6 linked regions of the Homo sapiens genome follow. The protein of the gene in region 1 purifies or fractionates together with the protein of each later gene. This does not show direct contact. Each region holds a gene or a part of one and is shown in the gene's direction. Other genes may lie near its edges. The genes, in order: CCDC61, FHOD1, NHSL3, UACA, TRIOBP and ADD3.

Region 1 (3,500 bases):
TGGAGTCTCCCCCTGTCGCCAGGCTGGAGTGCAGTGGCACCATCTCAGCTCACTGCAACCTCTGCCTCCTGGCTTCAAGCGATTCTCCTGCCTCAGCCTCCGGAGTAGCTGGGATTACAGGCACGGGGCACCACACCTGGCTAATTTTTTTGTATTTTTAGTAGAGATGGGGTTTCACCATTGTTGGCCAGGCTGGTCTGGAACTCCTGACCTCATGATCCACCTGCCTCGCCTCCCAAAGTGCTGGGATTACAGGCATGAGCCACCGCACCTGGCCTGCTCTGACCCCCTTTTAAAAGCTTGGCTCATCCTACTCCAATACCCCCGTCCCTCTTTCCAGCTTGACTTTTCTCCACAAATGTTTGCTGAATGAATGAATGAATAATAATAAATATATAATGAGTATAAGACTTAATAAATTAATACTAATATTAATCATGATTCTTTTTTTGGCCATCATGTATTTCTTTTCTTTCTTTTTTTTTTTTAACTGAGTCAGGGTCTCACTCTGTCACCCAGACTGGAGTGCAGTGGCAAGATCACAGCTCACTGCAAGCTCTGCCTCCAGCCTCCCGAGTAGCTGGGACCACAGGCATGCACCACCACACCTGGCAATTTTTTTGTATTTTTAGTAGAGGTGGGGTTTCACCACATTGCCCAGGCTGGTCTTGAACTCTTGAGCTCAAGTGATCCTCCTGCCTCAGCCTCCCAAAGTGCTGGGATAACAGTTGTCAGCCACCGCGCCCGGCTTGGCAATCATGAATTTCTAGTATCCAGCACATATTGGACACAGCCTCCAGGTCACAGTACCAAGTACTTTTATACATATTGCCCAATGTAATCCTCACAACAAGTCCACGAGGTTGGTGCCATTATTATACCCATTTTCCAGATGAGGAAACTAAGGCACAGAGAGGTGAATTCGCTTTCCCAGGATGCCACAGCTGGTAAATGATGGAGCCAGGATATGAGGCCTGGCCTTCCAACTCATGAGCCTGGGCTCTGAGCTCCTCTAGGTTTCTCTCTCATCTCCTTCTCCAGCAACCTTGGCCATGGACCAGCCGGCTGGCCTGCAGGTGGACTACGTCTTCCGGGGTGTGGAGCATGCCGTGCGGGTGATGGTTTCTGGGCAGGTGCTGGAGCTGGAGGTGGAGGACCGGATGACGGCTGACCAGTGGCGGGGCGAGTTCGATGCTGGCTGTGAGTGTGCCTGCCTGGGGTGGGCTCACCTTTCCTCTCCTGGGATCAGCTTCTCCCAGAATATCAGGCCACCCTGAATCCTGCCCACCTGCCTCTTCTTTGTCACCAGAAACTCTCCAGTGTGGGGAGGGGTGTAGGTCTTGTTGCTCAAGCCAGAGACACTGGAGTCGGGTAGAATTGCAGAGCTTAGGTGCATTGCCCTGGGGCTGGGCAAGCGGTCAGACCTCAGGAGAGACTTTTCTCCCCACCCAGTCATTGAAGATTTGACTCACAAGACAGGGAACTTCAAACAGTTCAACATCTTCTGTCATATGCTGGAGTCAGCCCTCACTCAGGTAGGGCCCGGGTTGGCGGGTTGGGGTGGGAGGGGGGTTCTGTCTTCCAGGTTCCAGGGGGGTTGATGCCCATCTGATGTATGTAAGACCCTCTACCTTCTCTTTCATTGTGGGAAGAGGGCGATCATTTTCTTCTTTTGCCAAGTGTAAATGCTTCATTTTGAACTTAATGATAGTTATTCTCATGTAGAAAATTTAGGTCACAGAGAAATATAAAGAAGAAAGTAAAAATCACTCCAGCCCTAATACTCGCTTCTGTTAATATTTTGGTGAAAATCACTCCAGTCCTTTCTCCATGTCTCTGTTTGTTTCCAAATACGTGTGTGTGTGTGTGTGTGTGTGTGTGTGTGTGTGTGTGTGTATGCATTTGCAGATCTGTAATTATATATAGTTTATATAATTTCCAAGGTATTCTGCAACCTGCTTTTTTTGGTTTGTTTGTTTATTTTTTTTTTGAGATGGAGTCTCGCTCTGTCGCCCAGGCTGGAGTGCAGTGGCACCATCTCAGCTCACTGCAACCTCCGCCTCCCAGGTTCAAGCGATTCTCCTGCCTCAGCCTCCTGAGTAGCTGGGATTACAGGCGCACGCCACCATGCCCGGCTAATTTTTTGTATTTTTAGTAGAGACGGGGTTTCATCATGTTGACTAGGCTGGTGTGGAGCTCCGGACATCAGGTGATCCACCCGCCTCTGCCTCCCAGAGTGCTGGGATTACAGACGTGAACCACTGCGCCCAGCCTGCAACTTGCTTTTAAAGGATTCAGCAATATCTCATAAAAATGTAGTCACATCAGTGAATATAGCCATTCATTCATTTCATTTGCTGAGCATTGACAGTGTGTCAGTCATTGTGGGGGACACTGGCGATACAGCAGTGAACAACAGACAAAACCCCTGTCCTCATGAGGCTGACATTTTGGAGAGACAGACAAATGAAAAAATACATAATGTCAGGTATTTAAAAGTTTTTGTTTGTTTGTTTGAGATGGAATCTCACTCTGTCTCCCAGGCTGGAGTGCAGTGGCGTGATCTCAACTCACTGCAATCTCTGCCTCCTGGGTTCAAGCAATTCTCCTGCCTCAGCCTCCCGAGTAGCTGGGACTACAGGCGTGTGCCGCCACACCCGGCTAATTTTTGTATTTTTAGTAGAGATGGGGTTTCACTGTATTGGCCAGGCTGGTCTTGAATACCTGATCTCAAGTAATCCTCCTGCCTTGGCTTCCCAAAGTGTTGCAATTACAAGCGTGAGCCACCGTGCCCAGCCTAAAAGTAATAATCAGGGGGAAGAAGCAGGTTAGAACTTAGAGTGACAGGGATGGGTGGTATTTAGATATCTTTTTTTTTTTTTTTTTTTTTTTTTTGAGACAAGAGTTTTGCTCGGTTGCCCAGGCTTAGTGGCACAGTCTCAGCTCACTGCAACCTCCGCGTCTCGGGTTCAAGTGATTCTCATGCCTCAGCCTCCCAAGTAGCTGGGACTACAGGCCTGCCCACCATGCCCAGCTAATTTTTGTATTTATTTATTTATTTTTTTTGAGATACTATCTGTGTAGCCCAGGCTGGAGTGCAGTGGCATGATATTGGCTCACTGCAACCTCCGCCTCCCGATTTCAAGCAATTCTCCTATTTCAGCCTCCCGAGTAGCTGGAATTACAGGCATGCGCCATCATGCCCGGCTAATTTTGTATTTTTAGTAGAGACGGGGTTTTGCCATCTTGGCCAGGCTGGTCTTGAATTCCTGGCCTCAAGTGATCCACCTGCCTCGGCCTCCCAAAGTGCTGGGATTACAGGTGTGAGCCACCGCGCCTGGCCTGGACAAGCGATAGTTTCTTAAAGGTTAGTTGCAATGTGGAATCTGCATCCTCATCAGTGAACTTTTTGTATTGTTACATTAAATTCCACTGACTTATCTTGCATTTTGTATGGATATTTTTTTACCTGTGGATGATCTTGTAACATCATGCATTGG
Region 2 (3,500 bases), on another chromosome or scaffold:
GCCCTGGTTGGTGGAAGGGAGCTTGACAGTGTCTTGGGCCGGGCCTAGTGTCCCTGGGGGAACTCAGGAGTGCCTTCCTCCCCTCCAAAATATTCCCCCAGCCCAGACCTGCCTTTGCCAGAGGGGAGAATGTGTCCCTCTGGCCTTGCATCTCATCTCCTAATCTAGAGCCTCCCAGTTCTACCCTCCCTTCTGGGAAGTGTCTCAGGAGCCTCTCCGATACCCAAGGCCCTACCACACCTGGTATAGCACTGACTTCTCCCTGAGCTCCGGGTAGGGGGATCTGGGGTGCTTCTCTGACCCTGCTGCAAAGGCCAGGAAAGCCCTCTCCTCCTGACAGTGGGGATAGCCCTAGAAATCTGGTCATTACTAGCAACTTTGTTTCCCTAGCTGTGGCTAAAAATCAGAGTAGGACAGGGGTGGCACTGTCCTGGAATGTTTCCTGACCCTACCCCAACCCACTCTAGCCTTTTTACATCTCAGGAGCCTTTGGGAGACTGTAGAAAACTGAGGTGTGGGCATGAGTCCTGGTCTCCTCCTAGCCTCCCCTGGGGCTGGACTATCCAATCTGCTGGTCATTCTGGAACAGAGTGGCTGAGCTGCAGACTGGTGAGGGACCCTGACACCTAGGTCCTGGCAGAGGTAGATACTATTATCCTAACTTGCATGGGGTGCGTGTGTCTATTGGTGTTCCCTTACTGGAACTGGGAGGACCAGTATGGGGTATTTGCAGAGTCCAGAAAACTAAGAGGATGTCTTCAGCTCTTGGCAATCCTTCTGGCCCCAGCCCTCACTCCACTTCCCCTCTAGGGTTCCTTGGAGCATTTCCAGGGCCCATCCGCCCAAGATTTGGTCAATTAGCCCTGGCTCCTGGCTGTGCACCCTGGGGCAATGCGCTGATTTTCTGATTCTTGGTTTCCCTATCTGTAAAAGGATTATTGGTAGAATCAAATTAAATAGGCGGCTCAGGCTGGGCATGGTGGCTCATGCCTGTAATCTCAGCACTTTGGGAAGCCAAGGCCAGAGGATTGCTTGAGGCCAGGAGTTCAAGAACAGTGTGGGTGATATAGCGAGACCCTATTTCTATTAAAAAAAAAAAGAAAAGAAAAAAAAGAGGCAGTCCGGTGCCTGGCACAGAGGAAGCATAAGATAACAAAAGTGGATTTCCCTCCCCAAGGCCCATCCTTGTCATCTCATTCAGGAAGTCACACTCTAGTTGGAGACCTGCGATAACAGGAAAGGAGGGTCTTCAGAACACAGGGTCCTGTGTTTATAGGAAAGGAGACAAAAGAGGCAGTTAACCAATTATTTTCTAAAATGAAAGCCCTTCAGCCTATAATCCTGCCTCTTTTCCATCTTCCCTGTACCCTGCTCTGGTATGTTCAGTCTTACCTGATTACACTGTTATTAAAAATATTGGGTAAGACAGTCTAAAGAAACAAGCGGGAAAAATGTATATTTATAAAATATATAATAGATATATGTAATAGATGTCTAGATATATATAATAGATACATAGCTATATATATAAATTATCAATATCTATAGACATCTATATATTATAGATCTATATCTATATATTATACATAGGTAGATAGATAGCTAGAAAGAGAGAGAGAAGTAGATGCCATGGTCCCCTGGGCTTGACCCTGCATATAAAACCATACATAACCAGTTGGTTTTGGGCTGCCAGAAAAGCCTGAGCCTGGAAAGTCAAGAGTATAGTGGGCTGGAGGCCAATGTGAGAAGCTGAGCCTGGGAAGAATGGGGGAAAGACTCCACCCCAAGACAGAGACCAGAGAAGTGAGGAAGACAAGAGCCAAGAAGGTGTCAGGGAAGTGGGCCCATACTACGTGCTGAGCTTAAGCCCCGTCAGCAAGGACCAGGGTTTGGGCTTATTCAGGCCTGGCCCAGCCCCAGGGTGTGAGAAACAAGGCCCAGAGGTTTGGCTCTCAGAAGGGTGACCCCAGGAAGGGGCCGGGGTGTGAGGGACATGTGCCATCCTGCTAGCAGGAAGTCTCCTGCTCTTTGCTGCTTGCCTGACTCTAGCCTACCACCCCACACTTCCACCCAGGACAGACAGCTGGGGGTGGGGAGACACTGTCCTGGAAGGCACTGGACTACCTGTTTCCCTGGACCTCCTCCCCAGAAATGGGGCCCTGGCAGGATTGGACAGGTGAAGTGGCTGAGGAGGCTAGAGAATGTGGACCATTGGCCGGGCACAGTGGCTCACACCTACAATCCCAGCACTTTGAGAGGCAGAGGCAAGTGGATCACTTGAGGTCAGGAGTTCAAGACCAGCCTGGATGACATGCTGAAACCCTGTCTCTACTAAAAATACAAAAATTAGCCAGGCATGGTGATGCACGCCTGTAACCTTAGCTACTCAGGAGGCTGAGGTAGGAGAATTGCTTGAACCCAGGAGGCAGAGGTTGCAGTGAGCCAAGACTGTGCCACTACACTCCAACTTGGGAGACAGAGCAAGACTCCATATCAAAAAAAAAAAGAAGGTGGACTATTTAACCTTCAGGACCCTTCCCCAAATGGATGCAGGTGTCCTGGAAGGAGAGGGACATTCTCTGCTCTCTTGGGATTACAGCATGCAAGGAGGCAGGACAGCGTGGTGGGCCTGACCTTTCTGGGTCTGTGCTGCTTCAGCCTGTGTTGGCCAGTGCATACCCAACCTTATACCTGGGTGTGTAAGCAGTTACCAGGTGTAACATGTTTTCCCTTCCCGTTTATCTTTATAGCACTCTGCCCCTCCCCTTTCTTAGCACTGTGAAAGTTGTGATTCCACATTCATTTGTGAGCTTTTTCTGACTCGTCTGTCTGTCTTCCCGTCTGCCCCACTGGGCTGGAAGGAAGGGAAGGCAGAGGCAGTGTCTAATTCCTCCTAGGTCCTCTGCATCTGAAACCAGCCTGGTCATGAATGTTCAAAGAATGAGCTGTTCTATATGTGTGTGATTCGAGGGGATCCCTGACGGGGGTGGCTCTGGGGTAGGTGTGTTCTTCTAGGGTCCCAGAATCTTCCAGGCCAAGGGAGGGAGATGCGGCTGTGCCTGAATGGGGGTGGGGTGGTAGGCTGCTGAGTCACTGTGTGGGAAGAGATCAGGAGGAATGTGGGTTGCCCTCAGCTGAGCTGGCCCTGGACAAGATACCCCAGCCCTCAGGCCTTGCTGCCCCTTCTCAGGCCTGTTCCCAGTAGGCCCTGGAGAAGATGACTCTGCTCCCAGGGAGGGGAAAGTGGCCAGGCCTGCCCAAGGCACCCTGGGGAGGGCAGGCAGCCAGGCAGGAAGTGGGACAGAGAACAGGCTGGAGTGTTTGTCCTATGTCCCAGGTCCCAGGCGGGGGTGGGCGGGGGGGGGGGTCATCCAAGGGCCCCACAGGCTAAACTGTGGGGAAGGAGCCAGGTCAGGCTCTGAGGCAGGCGCAAGGGTTGCTAAACAGAGGTAGGGGTTGAGGCAGGAGCTGGACTCCCTTTTTCTCCAGGGGACCAAGGC
Region 3 (3,500 bases), on another chromosome or scaffold:
ACCTTGGGAAAACCCTTAACCTCTCTGAACTTCTGTTTGATGTTCTATAAAAATGAGGATAAGTACCCTATTGGAATGAATGCCAAATGTTTAGAATGACGACTAACACGTAATAATATGTTTACTAAATAGTAAGCTATCACTAAAGGGAAATTACCATCATTGACTTAGTAGCCTTAGTCTTACAGAAAGAAGCCTCTAGCTTTGTTTAACCTAGCCTTGCCCATACCTACTTGACTGTGGAAACCATTTCTCGCAGAGCTCTTATTACAAAAGTAGTGCCCTGCAGAATGTGCCTGGAGTCCTTTGCTCTAACAGTTTTTCTCCCACGACTGGCCCCCAGGCTCCACCTTCCGACCCCATGACTCATTTCCCAAATCTGGAAAGTCAGGGCGGCGTCGGCGGGAGCGGCGGAGCACTGTGCTGGGACTCCCGCAGCATGTGCAGAAGGAGCTTGGTGAGGCCTGGGTTAGGAGGGCAGTGGTGGGGTGGGTGGGGAGCCTTGGTCATCCCCTCTCTGCTGACCCCACCTCCTCCCTGTCCCTTCCAGGCCTGAGGAATGAGCGTGAGGCACCAGGCACGCCCCGGGCTCCTGGTGCACGGGATGCCGTACGCATCCCCACAGTGGACGGCCGCCCCCGAGGCACCTCAGGGATGGGGGCCCGGGTGTCCCTGCAGGCGCTGGAGGCGGAGGCGGAGGCTGGCGCTGAGACAGAGGCCATGCTGCAGCGCCACATTGACCGTGTCTACCGGGATGACACCTTTGTTGGCCGGTCCACGGGTACCCGGGCCCCACCATTGACCCGGCCCATGTCCCTAGCAGTGCCTGGATTGACAGGAGGGGCAGGGCCTGCAGAGCCCCTGAGCCCGGCCATGTCCATCTCCCCCCAGGCCACCTACCTGTCGAAGTTGATTCCACATGCTGTGCTGCCGCCTACAGTGGACGTGGTGGCCCTAGGCCGCTGCAGCCTGCGCACACTAAGCCGCTGCAGCCTGCACTCGGCCAGCCCAGCCTCAGTCCGCTCGCTGGGGCGCTTCTCCTCCGTCTCCAGCCCACAGCCCCGCAGCCGCCACCCATCCTCCTCCAGTGACACCTGGAGCCACTCTCAATCCTCCGACACCATTGTGTCTGACGGTTCCACCCTCTCCTCTAAGGGTGGCTCTGAGGGCCAGCCGGAGAGCTCTACGGCTAGCAATAGCGTGGTACCCCCTCCCCAGGGAGGCAGTGGGAGGGGCTCTCCCAGTGGGGGCAGCACTGCTGAGGCCTCAGACACACTCAGCATTCGGAGCAGTGGGCAGTTGTCTGGCCGGAGTGTGTCCCTGCGTAAGCTGAAGCGGCCTCCACCCCCTCCCCGCCGGACCCACTCCCTCCATCAGCGGGGCTTAGCAGTGCCTGATGGGCCATTAGGGTTGCCCCCTAAGCCTGAGCGTAAGCAGCAGCCCCAGCTGCCTCGGCCACCCACCACTGGTGGCTCAGAAGGGGCGGGGGCAGCACCCTGTCCACCCAACCCAGCCAACAGCTGGGTACCTGGCTTGTCTCCGGGTGGTTCCCGGCGCCCCCCACGGTCCCCAGAACGGACACTTTCGCCCTCCAGTGGATACTCGAGCCAAAGTGGTACTCCCACCCTCCCTCCCAAGGGCCTGGCAGGTCCCCCTGCTTCCCCAGGCAAGGCCCAGCCCCCTAAACCAGAGCGTGTCACGTCTCTTCGCTCCCCTGGGGCCTCCGTCTCCTCTTCCCTCACGTCTTTATGTTCCTCCTCCTCTGACCCAGCCCCCTCAGACCGCTCTGGGCCACAGATATTGACCCCCCTGGGTGACAGGTTTGTCATACCTCCTCACCCCAAGGTGCCTGCCCCCTTCTCCCCACCTCCCTCCAAGCCCAGGAGCCCTAACCCAGCTGCCCCTGCTCTAGCCGCCCCTGCTGTGGTTCCTGGGCCTGTTTCTACCACTGACGCCAGTCCTCAGTCCCCTCCCACTCCCCAGACAACCTTGACTCCACTGCAGGAGTCTCCTGTCATCTCCAAAGACCAGTCACCCCCACCTTCCCCACCCCCATCTTATCATCCACCCCCACCACCCACTAAGAAGCCAGAGGTGGTTGTGGAGGCACCATCTGCCTCAGAGACTGCTGAGGAGCCCCTCCAAGATCCCAACTGGCCCCCTCCCCCACCCCCTGCCCCTGAGGAGCAGGACCTGTCCATGGCTGACTTCCCCCCACCAGAGGAGGCTTTTTTCTCTGTGGCCAGCCCTGAGCCTGCAGGCCCTTCAGGCTCCCCAGAGCTTGTCAGCTCCCCGGCTGCTTCGTCCTCCTCAGCTACTGCTTTGCAGATTCAGCCCCCGGGTAGCCCAGACCCTCCTCCAGCTCCGCCAGCCCCAGCTCCTGCTAGTTCCGCCCCAGGGCATGTGGCCAAGCTCCCTCAGAAGGAACCGGTGGGCTGTAGCAAGGGTGGTGGGCCTCCCAGGGAGGACGTAGGTGCGCCCCTGGTCACGCCCTCGCTCCTGCAGATGGTGCGGCTGCGCTCCGTGGGTGCTCCAGGAGGGGCTCCCACCCCAGCACTGGGGCCATCGGCCCCCCAGAAACCACTGCGAAGGGCCCTGTCAGGGCGGGCCAGCCCAGTGCCTGCCCCCTCCTCAGGGCTCCATGCTGCGGTCCGACTCAAGGCCTGCAGCCTGGCCGCCAGTGAAGGCCTCTCAAGTGCTCAGCCCAACGGACCGCCTGAGGCAGAGCCACGGCCTCCCCAGTCCCCTGCCTCAACGGCCAGTTTCATCTTCTCCAAGGGCTCTAGGAAGCTGCAGCTGGAGCGGCCCGTGTCCCCTGAGACCCAGGCTGACCTCCAGCGGAATCTGGTGGCAGAACTCCGGAGCATCTCAGAGCAGCGGCCACCCCAGGCCCCAAAGAAGTCACCTAAGGCTCCCCCACCTGTGGCCCGCAAGCCGTCTGTGGGAGTCCCCCCACCCGCCTCCCCCAGTTACCCTCGAGCTGAGCCCCTTACTGCTCCTCCCACCAATGGGCTCCCTCACACCCAGGACAGGACTAAGAGGGAGCTGGCGGAGAATGGAGGTGTCCTGCAGCTGGTGGGCCCAGAGGAGAAGATGGGCCTCCCGGGCTCAGGTACAGTGGGCAGTGCTAGGGTGAGGTCCCATTGCTGATGATGGGAAGTAGGAATCTGAAGTCCCGCCATGGGGGATTTGTTCTTGGATCTTTAACTTTTCTGGTCTGAGAATGCCTGGGAAGGGCAAGCTGTCACCCTTGCTGGGGCCCAGAGGAGAATGGTGTGTGAGTGTCAGGCCTACTGTGTTTGAATTCCAACTTTGCCTCTTTCCCTACCCTTCCTAGCTACATTGTAAAGTGTGGGGCAGTGACACCTACATTATAGTGTCTGAACATGTGTAGGGTGTCCAGCCCAGTGCTGCGGGCACTGTCAGTAAATCAAAGCGGTAAGAAGGTTGGGTGAGGGTATGCTTTGTTGGGCTCCTAGTGCCAGAACCAAGCCAGGAGG
Region 4 (3,500 bases), on another chromosome or scaffold:
GGGTACAGTGCCATCTCCTACTCTGAACCTGTCCATTTCTGTACTGCAGAGGTCCCTTGCTTTATTTTTGCTTCTGTATTTGATACTATTTTAGTTGGTGTGCTCTAATAATTTCTATCCAGAATTCTCCCTATCTCTGTCTGTAGGTCTAATGTATCATGGTGCTTGTTGTATTACAATTCTGAAGTTTATGGTCACAAAGTATCTGAAACACACCCCTTCCATTTAATTCAAGTATTACAATAAATTAAACTAAAATTTCTGGGATTTTTGTAGTTACTAGTAAAAATTTTGGTTTCTTTTGACTTAATTTTATTCTTCCAAACATGTATTCTATTGTTTGTAGTTTATTAGAAGTATAAAAGTATAAAAAATAGTCTTTAGTTGTCAGATTTTATAGCTGTAATTGTTTTCTTTATGCATCTCAAAGGAGGAAATTCTGTACCTAATGCTAAATGACGAGTTAATGGGTGCAGCACACCAGCATGATGCATGTATACATATGTAACTAACCTGCACATTGTGCACATGTACCCTAAAACTTAAAGTATAAAAAAAAAAAAAAAAAAAAAAAGAACCCTGGCTTCTACAACTCCCCTTATCTTAACTCAAGCATTTCTTTATATTGACTTCAATTCTCCAGACAAAGCTTAATGCTTTCAATCAATTCCCAATCAGGAAATCTTTGACTTGGAAGCCCCTACTTTGAAATGTCCTGACATTCTGAGCTAAACCAATGTATACCTTATATGTATTGATTTATACCTTTGCCTGTAACTTTTGTCTCCCTAAAATGTATAAAACCAAGTTGTAACTCAACCACCTCCGGCACCCATTCTCAGGACCTCCTGAGGCTGTGTCATGGGCCATGGTTGCTAACATTTGGCTCAGAATAAACCTCTTTAAATATTAAAAAAAAAAAAAAAAGATGTGATTAAGAAGTGGCTTTTTAATATTACTTTGTTTTTGTGGATACTATCATCTGATTCCAAGCATGATGAAGAAAATTGGATTTTAAAATTAAATTTTACGGCTGGGCGCGGATCACTTGAGGTCAGGAGTTCAAGACCAGCCTGGCCAACATGGCGAAACCACATCTCTACCAAAAATACAAAAATTAGCTAGGTGTGGTGGTGCGTGCCTGTAATCCCAGCTACTCAGGAGGCTGAGGCAGGAGAATTCCTTGAACCCAGGAGGCGGAGGTTGCAGTGAGCTGAGATCATGCCACTGCGCTGGCAACAGAGCGAGACTCTTGTCTCAAAAAAAAAAAAGTTAAATTTAATTTTAGGATCACAGAGGGATAATCTGGTTGATCTACATACAGTGCTTTATATTTTTTATAGCTCTCACATTTTTCAAAGCACTTTATCTATGTTTTTTCATTGGGCATTCACAAAAAGCCAATGAAGCAGGGCAGTGTATATTGTATAGACTAAATAGCATATGGTTTTCAACATAATTTATAACCTTAGTTTCTAATACTCTATATTCATTTCTTTTTTTCCTGTTTTATATGTAGCATTTTTTAAATAACAAAAACTTTGTTAATGCCTGTTTTGTACAGAATTTCTTATCAGCAACTACAGGGGAGTTGGGGGACAAGGCTTGAATATGAGAAACACAGCATACATAGCAGAGAAAAGGCAAGAGTCAGTTTCCTTAAGAGATCCAATATTCACAATTGAAGACAGAGTTAGATATAGGATATGTCATTTCATTTCATTACGTGTTGGTTAGCCCCATCCTAAAAAATAGAGGATTAGACAAAATAATTTCTAGGGTCCTTCTAGATTTTCATGACAATTATTTTGTTGCATGATTAGTATTTGCTGATGTACTGTGAGATGTTTGAGTGCCAGTGGTTCTATTGCAATAGAATAAAGCAATGATCCATGTTGCATGGCGTTAGTTGTAGTCTGAAGATGTGAAGGTCTTCAGGTAGAAGAATCAAGGTTCTTCTAAGCAGGAACATCAGGAATGGAATCTGATACTTCTCTTGGAGGAGAAGGGATTCTTAGGGGAGGTTTGCATGATGTGGTTCAGTTCATGAAGGGACTGAAAAAGTTGGGTTTTGATCACATGGGGTGACAGTATCAGTTGTGGAAAATTTTTGTGGTGATTATTTACGTGTAGGACATTGAAGAAGTGGAATAAATGAGGTTGGTTTGGTAGTAGAAGTAATTAAAGGATATAAGGATATAGAAGACAAAGCAAATGTTTTTATAAATGCAATGAATATAAAGTAAAATCTATATCTGTAACAGGCATGACTTCTTAAAGTAGTGTCTATTCTTCAAGAAGGGAGCATGTCTTAGTGTTCAAGTAAGTGTTCAAGTAGTGTTGAACACTTACTTGAACTTAGTGTTCAAGTAGAACTACAGTTTATAAGAAGCAAAACATTCCTTACTGATAAACAGTATTGGTTCATCTCCCTCTACAACATGGATTTGCTTACTTACATTATAGTCACTTGCTTTGAGGCAGTGTGTGTTGCATATATAATCTAGTTTATCCAGTGAACACTAAGACAGTGTTCAACAATAGGGCAGAATATTTCTGCAATATTTCCTTGGAGTTTTCTCAGTCTTTTGCTCTTCCATTTTTCCATTTAGAACTGCCCTCATGCTAGGTTGCGAATATGGTTGCAGAGATGCAGTAGAAGTCTTAATTAAAAATGGTGCTGATATAAGCTTGCTGGATGCGCTTGGCCATGATAGTTCTTACTATGCAAGAATTGGTGACAATCTGGACATTCTAACCTTGTTGAAGACTGCATCGGAAAATACCAACAAAGGTATCAGCAGTTTTCTGTAACTAGAAAAGTCCACATTAACAAAGAGCCACTTTTTAAAAGACTTAGGTAGTAGAACTACAGTTTATAAGAAGCAAAACATTCCTTACTGATAAACAGTATTGGTTCATCTCCCTCTACAACATGGATTTGCTTACTTACATTATGGTCACTTGCTTTGAGGCAGTGTGTGTTGCATATATAATCTAGTTTATCCAGTGAACACTAAGACACTGGAATAACTTCAGAACTGAGAAGGAAGAGTCAAGTGTTTTACTAAGTTTTTTTTTTTTTTTGATGAAGAGGGGTGAACCTCCCAACTTTTTATACTTACGAAGTTTTAAAGAATCATTGTTTAAACATGTATGTAAAATAGTCAGCTGATATTTACCAAATGCCTATGCCATGATTTTTTATGTTTTTTTTAAAAAAAACAGGAACATACAGAAAAGCACAATGAATAGTCACTCATTACCACTGAGAAGCCTCTGTTAACATTTTGAGAAATATCCTTCTAGTCTTTTCCCATTAAATTGAATTCACTGTAAATCTGAATTGTAGCTTACTTTTTTATGTAACCTATTTTGAAGGCCTTTCCCTCAAAAATAGTTTTTCTATAGTATGATTTTTGTTGGTGTATGAGATTCCATTTATTTAAGTTTCATTTAATAAAGCAGTTTTCTACATGTAGTGTTTAAGCTATTTATAA
Region 5 (3,500 bases), on another chromosome or scaffold:
GCCACATCTACCTGGAGCATCCTCTTTCTGATAAGTCCTCATGGACTTCCTATGGCATGCAGGAGAGGCCACCCTATGGCTGAGCTGCTTGGGAAGGAGCCAGGAAGAGCGGATCTGGCTGTACCTTAGGGGCTGAGAGGTGGTGGAAGGACCCACTCAGCACCCTTGCTTGGCCTTGGGGTGGCCTCGCAGCCCCTCAGCCCAGGCCTCAGCCCTGCCGCACCTTGTCTTTCAGGTCCCGCCCAGCTGCAGACCCTCCAGGCTGGAGGACCAGCCGCCCTCCTTCCCTCCTGGATGGAAGTAAAAAGCCAAGCTTTCTCCCCACCCTCTGTGGGCCACACGTGCACTTGCACCCACCACACACACACACACACACACACACACACACACAGACACACAGACACATACGCACACACGTGCACACATGTACACACGGATACACACACACACACACACACTGCATATCTGAGCGCGCCCCTCGCACTGGGTCTCACCTTGCACCTTCTTCAGGATTTTATATGTGAAGAGATTTTTATATAGATTTTTTTCCTTTTTTTCCAAAACACTTTATACTTTAAAAAAAAAAAAAAAAAGCAATTCCTGGTGGCTGTGTGCCTCCAACCCTGGTCCCCCTCTGTCTCCAGCCACCCTCTGCTTGGGCTTCTGAGCTGGTGGCCCTGGCCCAGAGGTCTGGCGGAGGCCCAGGCAGCAGCCATGGCGGGGTGTCTCTACAGGGGAGAGGCGGGAGCCTGCCACCCTCTTCCTGCCCTACCTCCTACTAACACTTCCTGCCCCATTTGGACCCGTACCATGGGGCTCAGGACAGAGGGAGCTAGCAGCTGGCCTCCATGGCCCCACAGCCTCCTTCGAGGCTGTGCTGGGTGCAGAACCGCCAGAGCCACCCAAAAGGTGTTTCTCTTCTGCTCCCTGAACCTCTTAACTTAATAAAACGTTCCAGCAGCTCTGGTGTCCTAGATGGCTGGCAGAACAGGAATGGAGATTGGGGTTTCTTGAAGTGGCTTCCCCACTCACACCCTACCCACACCCCACCCTTCCTAAAGCAGCGGCCTCTAGGCTTCTGAGGGTGGGGCTGAAAATCCAAGGTCTCCCTTAGTACAGACTGTGACGCCCCCAGTGTGGCTTGCAGGCTAGTGGCAGCGGAAGCATGTGGGAAATAGCAAGTCCAGTCCCACCCCAACCTACTGAACCAGCGTCTGCATTTTAACAGGGTGCCCCAGTGATTCACGTGACCTTCAAAGTCTGAGGAGCCCTGGAGTAGGGCCCAGGGCCCAGGCCTGAGAGAGAGGCCTGGGGCTAAGACTAGCCCTGACCATGACCTTGGGCAAGTCACACCCCTCACTGAGCCTCAGTTTGCTTCTCCATCAAATGGGTGTTTTTCTTTCAGTCCCAGTCCTCTCCTGAGGCTTTTCCCAGAGGTCATGCCCAGCCCTGGGCAGGGGTGAGGGCAGGGTTGTGGCTGCCAGGCACAGGTCCAGCGGGCTGGGAGTCCTCACCATGGCTGGCTGTGCTGATTATGGTTGCATGGGGCTGGGAAGAGGTCCCATTTCTGAGCCACAGAAACAGGCCACATCCAGTAGGGGTCCTGGAAGGCTGTGAGAACCCAGAGGAGACCCTGACCCAGCCTGCAGGTAGAAGACTGCCTTTGGAGGCAGCTTTGAAAGATGACTCTTCCAGATGGAAGAATCAGGAAGGGCCTTCCCACGTGGAGGCACCAGCAGGAGCAAACGTCCCTGGTGTGTTCAGGCAAAGAGCCACAGGAGAGTGACCTCGTGGAGTGGGAAGAGATTGTTTCCCATTCCCTTGCCAGGGATTGGTTGAGGAATGGACAAGGCTTGCAGTTCACGCAAGCCAGTGAAATGCGAGGGGAAGTCTTGGGAGTGGGGTGGAGGAGGTCATCTGGGAAGGGTGTCCTTGGTCTTAAAAAGAGGCACAAGAGGCCGGGCGCGGTGGCTCTTGCCTATTATCCTAGCACTTTGGGAGGCCAAGGCAGGGGGATCACTTGAGGTCAGGAGTTCGAGACCAGCCTGGCCAACATGGTGAAACCCCGTCTCTACTAAAAATACAAAAAATTAGCCAGACGTGGTGCCAAGCACCTGTAATCCCAGCTACTCAGGAGGCTGAGGCAGGAGAATCACTTGAACCCAGGAGGCAGAAGTTGCAGTGAGCCAAGATCGCGCCACTGCACTCCAGCCTGTGTGACAAGGGCGAAACTCCATCTCAAAAAAAAAGGGGGAGGGTGGCGCAAGGAGAGGACACCTCTCTCCTGGCCCTGTCGCCATCTTCCCTCATCAATAGCTAAAAATGGCAAAGAAGAAAGAGCCAGGACCCCGTGCCATCAAATCCTCCGGCCTTGTGCTGCCCTGTCTCGGCACTGCTTGCCTTAGGAGATCAGGAGTGTTCCTAGCCACTGGGAGATGGGATGCCTGCCACTGGCAGCTCTGCCGTCCATCCTCACCATCCCACCGTCCCCCCAAGACAGCTCTCCATCCCATCCTCTGCCTCCCTTCTAGCCTCAACCTAACTCAGGGCTCCCCCGTCTCACACCTGGGTTGCAGGAACATCCTCTTCACCAACCCCCCTCCCATCCCTCCTCAGGGCTGCCTAGGGCAGCTACAAAAACCAGGCCAGCCTCTGAAAGGTGCTCCACATCTCATTAAAAACCGTGAAATCGCACTGCCCCACTATCAGAATAGCTCAGAGGAGAAGGTCTGCCAGTACCAAGTGCTGGTGGGGATACGGAGAAGAGCAGCTCCCAGGCGCTGCTGGTGCAAATGTGCTTTGTTGCACCCACGGCAGGAAACTGACCAGCTTCTCATCAAGTTAAATACGCATCTACCCTATGGCCTAGCATTTCCACTCTTGCTTACACATCCAGGAGAAATGAGTCCTTACATGCACAAAAGGATGAGTACCGTAATACTCACATCAGCAAATAAACAATACAGCTGTGTGTCAGTAGTAGAATGAATAAATTGTGGTCGATTCATACGTTAGAATACAGCAATTTAAAAACAACTGCTACACACAAAAATGTTGGTGAATCTTTCAGACACAATGTTGAGCAAAAATAGCCACAGAAGAGTGTAAGGCTGTACGATTTTATTTAGGTGAGGTTCAAGAACAGACAAAACACGGTGATAGTGGTCAGAAGAGCGGGTACCTCTGAGCTGAGGGCATTGACCAGCAGTGGGCAAAAGGGAACATTCTGATCCCAGAAATGTTCTATATCATGGTCTGGGTTGTGGTCACGTGGGTACATACAGATGTAAAAATTCACCATGCCGGCCAGGCATAATCCCAGCACTTTGGGAGGCCAAGGTAGGTGGATGACCTGAACTCAGGAGTTCCGAGACCAGCCTGGCCAACATGGCGAAACCCCGTCTCTACTAAAAATACAAATAATTAGCCGGGCTTGCTGGCGCATGCCTGTAATCCCAGCTACTCGGGAGGCTGAGGCAGGAAAATTGCTTGAACCCGGG
Region 6 (3,041 bases), on another chromosome or scaffold:
TTTTGGTACAGTTTCATTTCTGTAAGCCTTTTTTACAGTGGTCTTTAAAATGGAGCAATTCTTGTTTTTTTCAAGTTTTTTTTATGTGAAACTTATTAGAACTTGGCATAATGGTTTTTAAAAATTATTAAGATTTACTTATACAGGCTTATTGAGGAAATATCACTGGCAATTTTAGTCCATTGGATTAGTAGTTTAAGGGCATCAATCTTACAAGAGCATTTTAAACAAAGCATGTTACCTTGCATTTCTTAGGATTGTTGTGAAATAAGGCTTCACAAACATCATATTTGCATTTATGTGTATATAGATGGATGGATGGATAGATATATAAGTAAAACTCTTGGTAATGAATCGATTTTTATTTTTTCTTTGTAAGACTATGCAATTTGAAGATGATGATCATGGCCCACCAGCTCCTCCTAACCCATTTAGTCATCTCACAGAAGGAGAACTTGAAGAGTATAAGAGGACAATCGAACGTAAACAACAAGGCCTAGAAGGTTAGTTAATCTTTACATTCAACCTAGGGTAAGCCACACTGATAACAATAAAGTACCTCACGTTGGATGATAGAAAGCAGTCAGTGTGGCCGGGCACAATGGCTCACACCTGTAATCCCAGCACTTTGGGAGACCAAGGCAGGTGGATTGCTTGAGGTCAGGAGTTTGAGACCAGCCTGGCCAACATGGTGAAACCCCGTCTCTATTAAAAATTAAAAAATTAGCCGGGCATGGTGGTACACGCCTGTAGTCCTAGCTACTCTGGTGGCTGAGGCAGGAGAATCGCTTGAACCTGGGAGGCAGAGGTTGCAGTGAGCTGAGATCGCACCACTGCACTGCAGCCTGGGCGACAGAGAGAGACTCCGTCTCAAAAAAAAAAAAACAGAAAAAGAAAAAAAACAATCTGAATGCTACTATTTTATAGTAAAATCTTCTAGAAAGTGAGATTCCCAGATGAGTAAAGAATTACTAGCCAAAGTAGATGTAGATAAATTAATGGATTTAAACATTTCATAATTATGTGGCTTTTTAACTCTCTTAATTTTAAATAATTACAGATTCATAAGTATGTAGTTTTGATGCTTTGTAAAATCTCTATTTCTGGTTATCTCAAGGTGCCAACATTGTCACTTCAAAATTTAAAACTAACTGCTAAAATTTTGATGTGACTTTCCTTAAGCACACGGACACTCTAGTAGGTTGAGTTTTCTGGCTTTGGAACCCTTAGTAAGTAGATTGTTAGGATTATATTTAAGACTTGTTAATGAAAACATCTTAAACAATTGACTACTAGCTCCCTTTTTCTCTGGAATAAGAGATTCTTCCTAGCAGGAGTTCTCTATCTTGAGTCTTTGGATAAGCTTCAGGCAGTCCATGAGCCACCTGAAAAATACATGCTTTATTGTTTAAGGTACACATTTAGGGAGGGAAGGGTTCAGGGTCAGGAACAAGCCTGTCACCCAAAAAGAGGGTAAGGAGCCTCTGCTTTAGAGCATCCACAACATACAGTTGAAATTTTCATGCAAAGCAAAATAAGCCAATAGTTAATGAATTTTTGTCCATGTTAGATATCATTTAGGAAGAACTAATGACATCTTGATCATCCAAGGAACAGTTTTTTGTGCCTTTGTCACAAAAGGGAGTTGTCCTGATTCATTAATGTAATTATACTAAATTTTCTAAATGGTGTTATTGAATTTGTTTATTCTAACATAAAGTTGGGAGCTTTCTCTGTTTTTCATATTTTGTAAAATATCCCTCTTTAATCTCTTGTTTTTTGAAAGCCTAAAGATGCCAGGTAACAAATGTTGCACTCTAGAACCGTCACCTTTTTTATATAACTTTATAGTAGTTTCTTCCACATTTATTATGACCTTATGAATTAGCTCAGTAACATTGCTCTGACAGGTATCACTAATTAAATATTGTTCAAAAATTCTGTGAAGCATTCTGCCTCATTAATGTAGCATCATTGGTGAGGCTTTATAATTTTTTTCATCTGTCTGCGCAGTATGTTTTGGTTTTCTAATGCTAGCAAGAGCTACATGCAACATATCATTTGCCTGGGCTGCCAGCAGCTGTGCATCTTTTGTAACCTGTACGTAAAATAACCATTAGCAGCCAGAAATGTTAACACATTAACCTCCTCTTAATGTATAATTATGGATATATGGGATAACTGTTAGCATGCTCAGCTCACTGCTGAAGAATTTATCATCTCTTTGTATACAGGCATTTGATGTATGCACTAACCTCCCTAAAATCATATGCTGCTTTGTTTTGTTTTGCATGGCTTTTAACTAAACTCTTATCCAACAGATGCTGAGCAGGAATTACTCTCAGATGACGCTTCATCTGTTTCACAAATTCAGTCTCAAACTCAGTCACCGCAAAATGTCCCTGAAAAATTAGAAGGTACTCAATGTAATTTCCCACATAGCATTCACTGAGTTAGTCTTGAGTCTGTCCCTCTGTGTTTTGTTTTCACGTGAGGAAGTTGAATACCTCATCACAGTAAGTTTTCCATATTTTACTTATATCTCCCAATAATTACATATTTTATATCATTAAAAATGGGGCGCTACTTTTGTTCAGCATTTATATTGATTTACCTTAATCTGAATTTTGGCAACCCGCAGTTCTTAAGAATTTGTGGAATTGGCTGGGCGCGGTGGCTCACACCTGTAATCCCAGCACTTTGGGAGGCTGAGGCAGGTGGATCACGAGGTCAGGAGATCAAGACCATCCTGGCTAACACGGTGAAACCCTGTCTCTACTAAAAATACAAAAAATTAGCTGGGTGTGGTGGCGGGCGCCTGTAGTCCCAGCTACTCGGGAGGCTGAGGCAGGAGAATGGCATGAACACGGGAGGTGGAGCTGGCAGTGAGCCAAGACTGCCACTGCACTCCGGCCTGGGCGACAGAGTGAGACTCCGCCTCAAAAAAAAAAAAAAAAAAAAAAGAATTTGTGGAATTAAACATCTCCCAATCAGCAGCATGAAATCTTTTTCAGTATTGATTGCCAAATGATCCCAAAACT

What was found.
Region 2: the proteins of CCDC61 (region 1) and FHOD1 purify together in Homo sapiens (tandem affinity purification; one study listed by IntAct). This does not show direct contact.
Region 3: the proteins of CCDC61 (region 1) and NHSL3 purify together in Homo sapiens (tandem affinity purification; one study listed by IntAct). This does not show direct contact.
Region 4: the proteins of CCDC61 (region 1) and UACA purify together in Homo sapiens (tandem affinity purification; one study listed by IntAct). This does not show direct contact.
Region 5: the proteins of CCDC61 (region 1) and TRIOBP purify together in Homo sapiens (tandem affinity purification; one study listed by IntAct). This does not show direct contact.
Region 6: the proteins of CCDC61 (region 1) and ADD3 purify together in Homo sapiens (tandem affinity purification; one study listed by IntAct). This does not show direct contact.

The regions. Positions count from the first base shown.
Region 1 is NC_000019.10:46,001,967-46,005,466, forward strand, and holds part of CCDC61 (centrosomal protein CCDC61), read left to right. Parts: intron 1-1,041; 5' UTR 1,042-1,052; coding exon 1,053-1,200; intron 1,201-1,452; coding exon 1,453-1,535; intron 1,536-3,500. UniProt on the Homo sapiens protein: Microtubule-binding centrosomal protein required for centriole cohesion, independently of the centrosome-associated protein/CEP250 and rootletin/CROCC linker.
Region 2 is NC_000016.10:67,240,982-67,244,481, reverse strand, and holds part of FHOD1 (FH1/FH2 domain-containing protein 1), read left to right. Parts: intron 1-3,500. UniProt on the Homo sapiens protein: Required for the assembly of F-actin structures, such as stress fibers. Depends on the Rho-ROCK cascade for its activity. Contributes to the coordination of microtubules with actin fibers and plays a role in cell elongation.
Region 3 is NC_000001.11:32,769,330-32,772,829, forward strand, and holds part of NHSL3 (NHS-like protein 3), read left to right. Parts: intron 1-343; coding exon 344-457; intron 458-550; coding exon 551-3,112; intron 3,113-3,500. UniProt on the Homo sapiens protein: Able to directly activate the TNF-NFkappaB signaling pathway.
Region 4 is NC_000015.10:70,683,559-70,687,058, reverse strand, and holds part of UACA (uveal autoantigen with coiled-coil domains and ankyrin repeats), read left to right. Parts: intron 1-2,612; coding exon 2,613-2,794; intron 2,795-3,500. UniProt on the Homo sapiens protein: Regulates APAF1 expression and plays an important role in the regulation of stress-induced apoptosis. Promotes apoptosis by regulating three pathways, apoptosome up-regulation, LGALS3/galectin-3 down-regulation and NF-kappa-B inactivation.
Region 5 is NC_000022.11:37,773,548-37,777,047, forward strand, and holds the end of TRIOBP (TRIO and F-actin-binding protein), read left to right. Parts: intron 1-235; 3' UTR 236-3,009; downstream 3,010-3,500.
Region 6 is NC_000010.11:110,129,984-110,133,024, forward strand, and holds part of ADD3 (gamma-adducin), read left to right. Parts: intron 1-379; coding exon 380-503; intron 504-2,321; coding exon 2,322-2,417; intron 2,418-3,041. UniProt on the Homo sapiens protein: Membrane-cytoskeleton-associated protein that promotes the assembly of the spectrin-actin network. Plays a role in actin filament capping. Binds to calmodulin.